Linked DNA regions of Homo sapiens: region 1 is linked to region 2. Evidence: fine-mapped expression QTL. A gene starts in region 2. The other region holds a variant in brackets. All regions are shown on one strand. Distances are between the middles of the regions.

Region 1 (5,386 bases), 58 kb after region 2:
CACGGTGTAGACACTCATGAGATATCTTGTGAGGCTCATTAGATAATTAGAGGCTCATTTGATATTTTGAAATAACTTAAGTCAATTTAGGAGAAATTAGAGTATTTGGGGCCCAGATCCTAAAAGATGGATATATTATTCTCCAAGTATAAATTAGGCATTTTGGAGAAATCTCAGCTATTCCAGGAATTAAGGGCATATGTCATTACTACAGGAATAGTAACAACATTGTGGAATTTCATAGAATCTCCCCTTCTCACACTCCTCCTCAAATTTCAAGGCTTTAAAAATACATTCATTATTTAAGGTTATAAATCCTCTGTAGGCTCTTTAGAGAGAATTTGAAACACACATAAAAATATAAAGAAAAAAATCAACCATAATGCCTTCACTTAGGAACAGACATTGTAAACATTTTGGCTTATTTCTCCCCAGTAATTTTGTAAGCACATGGTTACAGAACTAGGATAATACTGCATGTAAAGCTTCTCACATCATGCTTTTCAGAATTAAAAAAATATATAACATTTTATTGTGATTAAAACGTGAATACATGTTTGTTGTAGAAAATCTGGAAAAAAACAGAAAAGTGTAAAGCAAGAACTAAAAAAAGAACTTCAATCTTGTCACTTCACAGAAGCACTGTTAATATTTTGGTGACCTTCCCTTCTGGGATTTTTAATTTTTTCTGGTCCTTAACAAACCTTTGGACTTACTTGAGAGAGTTGAGGCTATTTCTTCAGTGTCCAGTTACCATTTAACCAAGATGGAAGTTAAAGACCCCTGGAAAAGTCAAGCAGCTTAATAAAAACTAAATGGATTTCTTTTCCCAGTTGACGTTTGTTACTGTGACCCTTGAGGGTGGAGGGAAAGTACAGTACTATCTGGGAACAAAGATGCTTCATGAGTTGCAACCTATCTGATGCTCGCAAGATGGGAGCCTTCATGTCCCTGCATTGAGAGGTGGGCTGGACAAAGGGAAAGGACCATGGGAGTCAATAATGTATGAATGGACATTATGGGGTTAAGAGGTAGCTTGAGATGCTGTCAAAGCCTCAATCATCAATTCTAATTCAAAATGTCTGTGCTATCAAAAATTATATTTAGCTCATAAAATTGATGATTTATATTGAACAAAATCACACTAACCAATGGCCCCTCTTTTCCTCCCATGGGGCTTCTTTATTGTGATAAGCTAAGGTCATATAGATTATTGCCAAGAGGAATGAAACTCAATGGTCTCATAAAAACAGAAATAAAAACCCCAAAAATCATTATCCTGAATCTTATGTTTCACTGAAAAATGATTTTACCAAGTTGACTTCCAGGAGGCATCGTGGTGTGGAACAGGCACTAGTGCAGCTCTGCCATGTATTTGTGTGTGAACATGGGCATGTTATTGTTACTCTGAGTTCTGGATTTATCGTCTATAGAACCAGAGCTAACTACTCCTCCTCTGCACAGGTAGTGAGTGGCTCAAATTGGCTAACATGGGAAAGTGTCTGGCACCTACAAAGGAGACAGTGTTTGTTAGTTCCTTGTTTTAAGTTCATGGACTGCCTCTCATGACAGTAAGTGTGGTTGGTATATTATGGGGCACTGGTTATATGCATCAGTGTTTATTGTCATGGATTAATTTGAATATGGAGAATAACAATATTCTTCTTGCTTCTCACAGGTCTGCAGAATTGGAGAGAGCAAAAAGATTTGAGATAGGAAGGATGTTTCGGTTATATATCTTGAGTAAAGGGAAAGTTTATGACAAACATAGCATACCCTTGTCATTAAAAAGTTAAATAATACATGAGTATATGAAGTAAATAATGAAGGCAGTCCACCCCCATCATACACACCACCATGGAAGTAAACACTGTCACCAACTGTGTGTGTGCACAGTTCCAGAACTCTCTCTATTCATCACATGTACATGAACACACATACTTGCGGCTTCACAATATTTGCTCAGTATTGTGGCAATTTCCTTGCATTAGTGCACCATGGAGGCATCTCGTTTTTAAAAAACAGCTGCAACAGTTCCCCAAAATTTGGATGAACCATAATGTAACTGACCAGTCTGAGAAAAGGAAGAGGTGCAAATGCCAGTTCTTTGAATGCTGTTGGAGCAACTGTGAGCAAATACTTTAAGACTCTTTTTGGCTCACTAACTTCATCTGCATAATGGGCAAAAGAATACCATTGCCACCCATGGCGTTATTACGGCATTATCACATACTTCAAAGCATTTGACAAACACTAACGCAAAACCTGATGCTGCCTTTTATTTATTCCTGATTGGAGGAGGAAAGAGGAAGACTAGAGCCCATGCTAAAAGTGGGCACATTTCAGTTGTTTGTGTATTAATGTTTAATGCCAGAGCTTTGGGAAAGTCAGTGATGAAACATTTATGACAACTTGTTTGATAGCAAAACTGTTTGCCTTGGAATTTTAATTTTAGTCAGTTCTATTTTGATATAACTCCAAAGACCTTCGTTTCCCTCCTTTTTAGGGTGGTCCATTGTTCACTTGGGCAGAAACCCTCGGATTCAGAGGGCTCTTTTTACTAATCTAAAGGAAATGGCAAGAGGGTATCTCCCTGTCTGCCTTATGAAGATAATACAGAAATGAAGCTGGGATCTTTTTCAGTGCCCTTCAAAGAGGTGGGCTGGCCAGGCGTCTGGATTACTTAATTCAAGTGGTTGATGCCAGTAAGCAGTGGGAAGATAAGAGGCTAAAGGAACAATCACTATGGATCAGATGAATAAAAGCCCTTTCTGCACTCTCTCTCTCTCTCATATAATACTGTGGCATCTCACTTCTTACTAAGACAAGGCTATTCCATCCTCTTGACAACAAGATAGGCTTTA[T/C]TTCGCCTCTAGAATGGCCTCCAGCCCTATCTCTAGGTCACCAGCTCTTTCGCAAATGACACCAGCCTATGCCATGCTGATGTTTTCTTCAACTTTTTTCTTGGATGTGGCATTAAAAAAAAAAAAAACGATCAAGGCAGAAAATCAAGGCTTTTGATTTTTAGGAGAGAGGAAAGGAAGTGGGGTGGCTCTAGTTCCCCAAGTTACTAAGGAAACACATCCCACCAGGATGTTGAAGTTCCAGGATGATAAGAAAGGATACTTACTGAGACTAGCTGAGACTGATGCATTAATGAAACTCAGTATCAGTCTCCACAACGACCCTCCATGAACTAAAGGTCAGAGTCAAGTGCACTTTGAGCTAAGCAGAAGGAATTTGGTTCTCAGACAGATTGCTCACTAAATCAGTTGTCCTCGCAGTTCATACAGGAATTTTTCAACTTCTTGATTCTACCTTGGATAATAAACCTATTGCATAATTCATTGGCTCTTAATCAAAACACTGTGGATCTTCAAAATTGACCAGTGAGTGCCCTGACTTGAAGCCCCTTTTTTCCTCTAGTCTGTTAACTAATGAGTGTTTTCTACTTAATAGTTGCTGACACTTGGGAAATACTTTGAAAATATATTTGGGTTTCTTTTGGAAAAATGTTTCCATGATCAAAAAACAGACCTTCTCATTTTATCAGGAACAAAAATCCAGTTACCAGAGCATTCTGCTAGCAGTGATGATATGCTCCTGCTGCTGCCTGTGGACCTGACTCTACTCCATGTTGCATATTTTTTAAAACTAGGAAAGTTTTCCTTAACTGGAGGACTACACTCTTATCACATATTTCAAGATGCTTTTCTGCTTTAATTCTCAGGTGTGGTGTTGTTTGTTCTGCCTCCTGGGAAGCAGCTTTCAAACTCATTGTTCAAGTGTCCTTGGAATGAAAAAGACAAACCATCCCGTCAAGGGAACAATAGTTTCTACTTAGGGGGAAAGTACATCTTGCCAATTTCAGTTTGCATTGTCCCAAACATGTTTGTAAAACTCTACCCTGAATTATCTGTGATGAATACAGTATAAAGTTAACCCCCCACATGGAATGACTAACAAAAGCAGATGCGAAACAGCTAACAAAGAAAGCAAACACAAAGATAAAACAGCATGCGTCAAATCCTATGTCAATCATAAGAAAATGTTTTTCACATCTAATCATCGAAGATTAAAGGCTGGATATTTAAGGAATGTGAAAGAGGATGTCCTTCAGCAAACAATTTAAATAAGGTGAGAAGGCCATGTGGTGGGTGGAATGGGAAAAAAGAAATTTGAAAGGCAGACTTGGGGTTCGAGGTTCTATCTCTTCCATGAAATAGTTGGGTCAAAAGAGGTCATCTAACTAGTTTCCAAGACTCATTGTCACCACTTGTAGACAGAGACAATAGCAACAACAGCTCTCTATCCACCTTGTCAGGAACGAGGGAGGATCCAATGAGATAAGATACATGAAGTCACTATACAGTGCCATATAAATGTCTGCATTTCTAAAACAAAAGTTGGCAGTTGAAAGAGCAATGGCAAGTGAATGGATATGACTGTGGAGTTGTGGGAGCAGAGAATGGCCTGCACCTGCGGTCTGACCACCCCTGTTTCCCTGTCCCTCAGGAAGGCCAGATCATCAGACCTTTTCAGGGGTGTAGGGGGGACTCAGGGGCAGGCCACTCAGCTATGGGGCTAAGCAAGGCTCTGGGACTTCTCTCCTGTTCACACTGATGGCCCTCCTTCACTAATTGTTTCCAGGGAAAAATCAAGTGTGTCCTAGCTTGAAAGAATAATTATTGAATTAGCAGTTCCCAAACTCAGTGATGCATCAAGAATTACTCTGGGGGCCTTTATTTAAAAAGTACTAATTCTCACACTCCCAGACCCCTGCTCACCTTACAAAATCTGAATTGTTGGGGTCATACCCAGGAATACATATATTTTAATTATTATAATATTGAAGTATCAGATATCCAAGAAAAAGAGTGTCCCCAAATCCCAATCCCAAAGCATATCAATTTAAAATTTTTTTCCATTTTTAACTTCTAATCCCCCCCCATAGGTATATTTAGTACTTTCTTACTTTTAATAATATCGGAGGATTTAATATTCTACAATTTTCATCAGCATTATCTGATTAATATTTTTGTATTTCAATTGTTTCTTTTTACCTCCCTACACCCCTTCCAGATAACCACTGTTAAAACTTGTCATGTTTTCTTTCCTATCTTTCTCTATGCCAATAGAAACAAGCACATTTTTGGCCACTGCTTCTCTTACAACATGTATCTCCACATCTTGCTTCTTCCATTTAATAATGCATCATATAAATCCCTCCAGGTTCCTAGGTATAGAGCCAACTCATAGGTGCATAATAATCCATGGGGTATTAGTCCGGGTTCTCCACAGAAACAGAACCAACAGGAAGTACAGATAAATAGATAGATAGAGAGATGGGTTGATCAAGGAATTGACTCGTGCAGTTGTGAAGGCT
Region 2 (5,364 bases):
TTATATTCTTTCCAATAGAATTTCATGACAACTCCTGCAGTTTTCTTAACCTACAAAAAAAAAAAAAAAGTGCTGCAATGATGAACAAAGAATTATACAAAACCTACTTTTGTATCTTTATTTTGGAATTTCTTGTTCTATTATAAATATGGAAGTATCCCTATTTCAGAAGACATATTTTGTTAAAAATGAATTGTACATATTTAAATATGTATTTTTGCACAGGTCTTTTTTTCTGATATCCTGTTTTGGTACAATTGAGATCATCTAGTATTTATTTATTAATTAATAAAAGTAAATACCTTTTTATAATTTGAAGTGGTTCACTGCCAAGCCAATAGTTCTAGAACCTGCCTCCTTTACAGTTTTAAGGGATGCCTCTGTTCTGTGAAAAGTCTTTGTCCCTTTTAGTGTCTCGGGAGTGGATTCATACAGATGAAGTGGGCATTGCTTCTTCCTGGTTGCCTGGTTTCCCGATAGACTACATGTAACTAAGTGACACACTGCTTTTCTTTTGTTAGTATTTTATGTGTGGGAGTATGTGACTGCGTGTGTGTGTGCCTGTGCGTGTGTGTGTATACTCAGCACATGTATGTTACTATGTGATGTGGTTTAAAACTAATGGAAAAAACTGAAAGTGCCTGAAACTAGTTTTAAGCTTAGACAGAATCTCTTTAAAAAGACTTGAATGTTCAGTTGAACTTTTGGAGTTTGCTTTTTCCACCTAAATATTGTTTCTAAAATTTTAGGGGCGGAGTTGAAAACCACCAATGCTGGTAATTTTATAAGGTATTTTAAAATTAAGACCTCTTGGTTCATAGTAATTCAATTGGTGATGGATTGCCTGGTGGCACCAAGGGTTACAGATCTTTTTGTCAGCCAGCAACTTACACGATGTGTCCGTTTTGTTATTCACTCATGAAATACAATTTAAAATATTTAAAATATTTTGTATTCCAAAAATATAATACAAAGAAGTACCTCTGAGAACATTGAAAAAAATGTATAATTTGAAAAATGTAACTTATAAGGGCAGCTGTCTTCCTGCAAGAGTTCTGTTGCCAAGGAATTTCTTAATGTCGCTCATTCTGTCCAGGGGGTTTGGGGCGATTGGGCTTTGAAAAAATATTCTTAAAAGTTTGTTTAGCAGAAAATAATCACTTTTACATTTTGTGCAAAACATTTTACATTTTCAGATAATTTAAATGAGCACTACATACTGTCAGTGTGAATGTAGGGCCTTGAAAGCATTTTGCTTTTTTTTTTTTTTTTTTTTTTTTGAGCTTGGTTATAAAAGCAATCTCCTGTGTTAAAAACGTGTGAATAGTTTGATAATTTGTACACATAATCAAGAGCATCTCAGCTGGACTTTGTGTTGGCTGCTGTATAGAACATGAACAAATGTCAAGGGATAGAAAATTACTTTGGATATTTAAAAGAGAAGAAATATATAGTCTATTTGTTTTGTAACAAGTTTCTGTAAATAAAATAATTTATACTATTTATAAGAAAAGGTTGTGCTTTGCTTTATAAGAAATTAGCTTGTGGAACAAACATGTTACTAAACGGGCAATAAAATTAGGACTTCTCAATAAATAAGGTTGGCTGCATGAAATATTGTACGTTTCTGCCTCGTTGTGATACTAAACCCTTTCAGTCTACTCTGACTTTTCATCACTTTTGGCATGGAACACCCTTGTGAAGCCCCTTCAATTTAGCCTTCCTCTTATATAAGCTAAATACTTCTAAGGCCTGGGGATGTTTCCATCTGGGGGCACAAAGCTTTGCTTTGGATAAATTAGTAACTGTGTAAACAGTGAACATTACTGTATTCTGGCCTTGCATGTTTGTGAAAGAAACGAGGGAGTTGATGGATTGAGAAACACATTCTATTTGTACTTAGGTGCAAATTTGATGACATGTAGTTTTGGTTTAAGATAAGCTTTTTATCCAGACCCGGTCTAATCTCTTCCTTTCTTTTACATACCTCCCTTACTGGCAATACAAGTGCATTTTAGTATTATTTGGAACACAGCATAATCATTTACCTCTAGAAATCCAGACATTTTTACTGTTTGCAAATAAACCATTCTGATAAATTATTTTTGTTGCTTAAAATAAGAGGAGGAACCGCTGTGTGTTAGCAAGAATGTCCATACCTGATATGAAAGAGTCATGTTGGCTTCAGTTCCTACTGCCCTGTGGACTTCCCATTCCCTCCTTACTTGAGTCAACCATCCACTCAGTACTTTCCACAAATCTAATAATGAGGTGCTCTCTGTAGGTAAATCCTTTCACTATGGCTTGTCCTCAAACCTCCCAAGAAAAGGTTCAACTGCTCAATCTCTTAACCTTTTTAATTCCATTCCCTTGCAGGTATCCCGGCCCTGCATAACAAGATGATCCCAACTCAAGGAAAGGGGTTTAGCAGTGTTGGATCTTGGCGTATGTGGGATTTAACCAGGCAGAAAGGCAGACAAGAGTAAGATTCTAGGCAGAGAGAGCAAATGCGTCGAGCATGGGTATGAACATGTGAGGGATAGAGAATAATTCTGCAGGAAGTTTGCTGGATGGAAGGGCCTTATAGGGTTAGAAAAGCTGGTGTCAGATTGTCAAGGACTTTGAATGTCATGGGGCTTCTCTTCCAGGAACACATGGGATCAGGCTTAGATTAACCCAAATGTAATTGTCAGAGCCCAGAGATATTTCATGGTCCAGTCCTAGCACTGTGCAGCTGCCAAAAGTCAAAGCCATTCAAATCTGTACTGAAAACTGTGGAAAAGCAAAGGAGCACTTAAGTCTCTTTCCCCATGTCTTGCATTCTCACTCTCTTTTGCTTCAAAGATCTGTCTTTACCTGCCCCTGTCCCCAGTCCTAACAAAAAGCACTCCCCTAAATCAACTCTTAAGTTCCTCTCCCTTCTCACTCCTTTCTTAGTCTCCTCTTTCTGTAAGAAGTTCTTGCTCCTGTTGTTAATGGAAGTTAATTAAAGTAGTATTTCACCTTGTAAGGCTGTAATTCTTGGCACTTGTTATCCTCATTTTCTACATCCAAAGACCATGGACCAGAATATCTCTTAGGAGGTAAGGGAGAGTGAGGCTATCAGCCAAAGAAAAAGTCTCCAGGGGGAAGGGGAGAATCACTTATAATTTAATACTTTGTGGAAAAAACATCTCTGCCACCTATGGCCCTCCAATAACAATGGAAGACAGAATCAACAGGTGAGAACCTTGGGACAAAAATAAGTTACAAAGCTGTTGTAATCCAGGTAAGAGCTATTAAGTTTCCAAACGAAGGCTGACTGTGAGGATAAGTGATACTGATTTCAGAAATCTTTAAAAAGTAGAACCAACAAGCCTTGAGGTCTAACTCTGTTCAACATTAAAGGGAAGAGTGAGTCTAAGAAGACTTCAGGTTTCTAGCTTGGCCAAACCAATTGAGCTTTAAGTGAAATGTGCGATATGGTAACAGAGAAGGAAAAAGACATAACGATAGATTTGAGCTGCTGGTGGGAAATTCTGGTTTAGTGCCCAGCTGGCTGTACAGGCTGGTTGGACTTTAGGAGGGAGGTTTGAGCTGGAAAATAAAGATGGAGAGTTGTCTTTCAGTTTTAGATCATCAGTGAGGTCATAAGGGTAGATGGAGTTTACCTGGGAAAATTAAGTAGCTATTCGATTTGGCTTATTATTATGTTAAAATAATACTTCTCTAGTGAAGTACTTAATATGCCAGATACTGTGCCAAGCATTTTATATACATCCTCTCTTTTACTAAGCCCTCATAGGGCAGGTATTTTGATTCCAATCATACTGATTGGAACTCCTAAGAAGGTATCTTGCTTAAGGTCCCACAACGAATAGGTGGCAGATCCAGGGTAATTCAGGTCTGTCAGAACAGTGATTCTTAATTTTTTCCCTCCTCAGACTCCAGGAGTCACATGAAGTTATGCATCCTGTCTGACCGAGGCACAGGCACACCACATTTTTATATTCCGCTTCCAGGATATCACAAACCTGAAGCCCATCCTCCATGGCCCAGAGAGAAAACCCAGGACAAAACCTTGGAGAAGACTATTTTCATGAAGACAAATGGAGAAGGAGCAGTAGAGTAAAAAGAGAGGTAAGGGAAGGCATTGAGATGGTTTACAGGGTTAGATGTTTTGAGTCAATCCCATTATAATTACCAATGCTATCTACCTATTTAGTTAACGTTTTATTGCCCTGCTGTTTTCTCCAGGATAATTGGAACAGCATGTATTGGTTGGGTGGAAAAGATAGAACTTGAGCAGGGAGATTGCCAAAGAGTGAAGATGTGGCTGAGTGATTGATGATGGTCTGAACTGGGTATTCAGGGAAGAGAACTAGAAGCCAACCATGTAGAATCTATGCAGGTGCTCTTAAGACATTGGTTTGACTGGAATTATCTTCTTGTTAGGTCTTAGGAATCTCCTTCCAGGTAACTTTTTCTATGATTAGACAATTGATTTGTTCAGGGTCACAGAGCAAAGTCCACATTTAATTCCACATGGCCAATAAAAGTGAGGGGCTACAAGGTGAGATCCAGGGGCCAGAGTTATCAAAGTGATACAGCACTTTTAGGAATAGGACAGGGAATGGAGGAATTGGAATTCCAGTATTACTTTCAAAAGCAGAACTGGCCAGAGGAATTGGAATTCCAGTATTATTTTCAAAAGCAGAACTGGCCAGAGGTGCTTGTGATTCCTGGGTGGAAACCATGGCAGTGGACAGAAGCAGCATGGAGGAAAAGAGCACTGGAATTCAGGCTGAGGAACTGTGAAGCCAAGGGTGTTGTATAGGTTGTCCATTTCAAATTAGGGTTGCTTGGTTCTGGGATGATTTGCATGGAAGAGGGGAGAGTGACTTGGAGATGTGTGATTGAGGACAGTGAGCACAGTGAGTTGATGGTGTTGCTGGGTTATAAGCAGCTTCAAAGAGAAGGCATTTTGAATGAAGGTGGAAACATAATGGCCAGGAGAACAAGCAAAGGACTAGGAAACAGTGAACTTCATCTTGGCCTCAAGTTCCTGAGGTGCATATGAATAAACAGTCTCTAACCCAGAGGGTTTCAAGAAAAGCAGAGTCCTCAAAATCCAAAGGTAGAGTTTCCCCACATTGATATTATACTAATTACACGTATAACAGTACTTTGGAAAAGCACAGGTCTCTGGTCACCTCTAAAAGGCAAGGTTGGTAAGGAGGTCAGGGTGTCACCTGTTGGTAGTCTTAACTAAATGGTCTCTTCAAGGGATCTAAGGATGGAAAGGGGATATATAATGGTTGGATTAAAGGCTCATCATTGATTAGCAAATTGTCCCTTTTGTTTCTTAAACCCAATTTGTACAGG

The links. PIP is the estimated chance that this variant, and not a neighbour inherited with it, causes the effect.
Region 1: its variant is the best candidate, but not a certain one, in a credible set for the expression of PSMD6-AS2 in adrenal gland (GTEx, PIP 0.70).

What each region holds. Positions count from the first base shown.
Region 1 is chr3:64,059,757-64,065,142 of GRCh38, forward strand. No RefSeq gene overlaps it. Among named protein-coding and RNA genes, the nearest start is that of PRICKLE2-AS1, 5.5 kb to the right of the region's middle. RefSeq lists enhancers at 3,484-4,683, 3,534-4,357. The variant T/C (reference allele first, on the strand shown) is at 2,865.
Region 2 is chr3:64,001,950-64,007,313 of GRCh38, forward strand. It overlaps PSMD6-AS2 (PSMD6 antisense RNA 2), which reads left to right and starts at 2,073. Exons shown (of 3, transcript NR_038286.1): 1 at 2,073-4,119. ATXN7 (ataxin 7) reads left to right here. Exons shown (of 13, transcript NM_001377405.1): 13 at 1-1,513.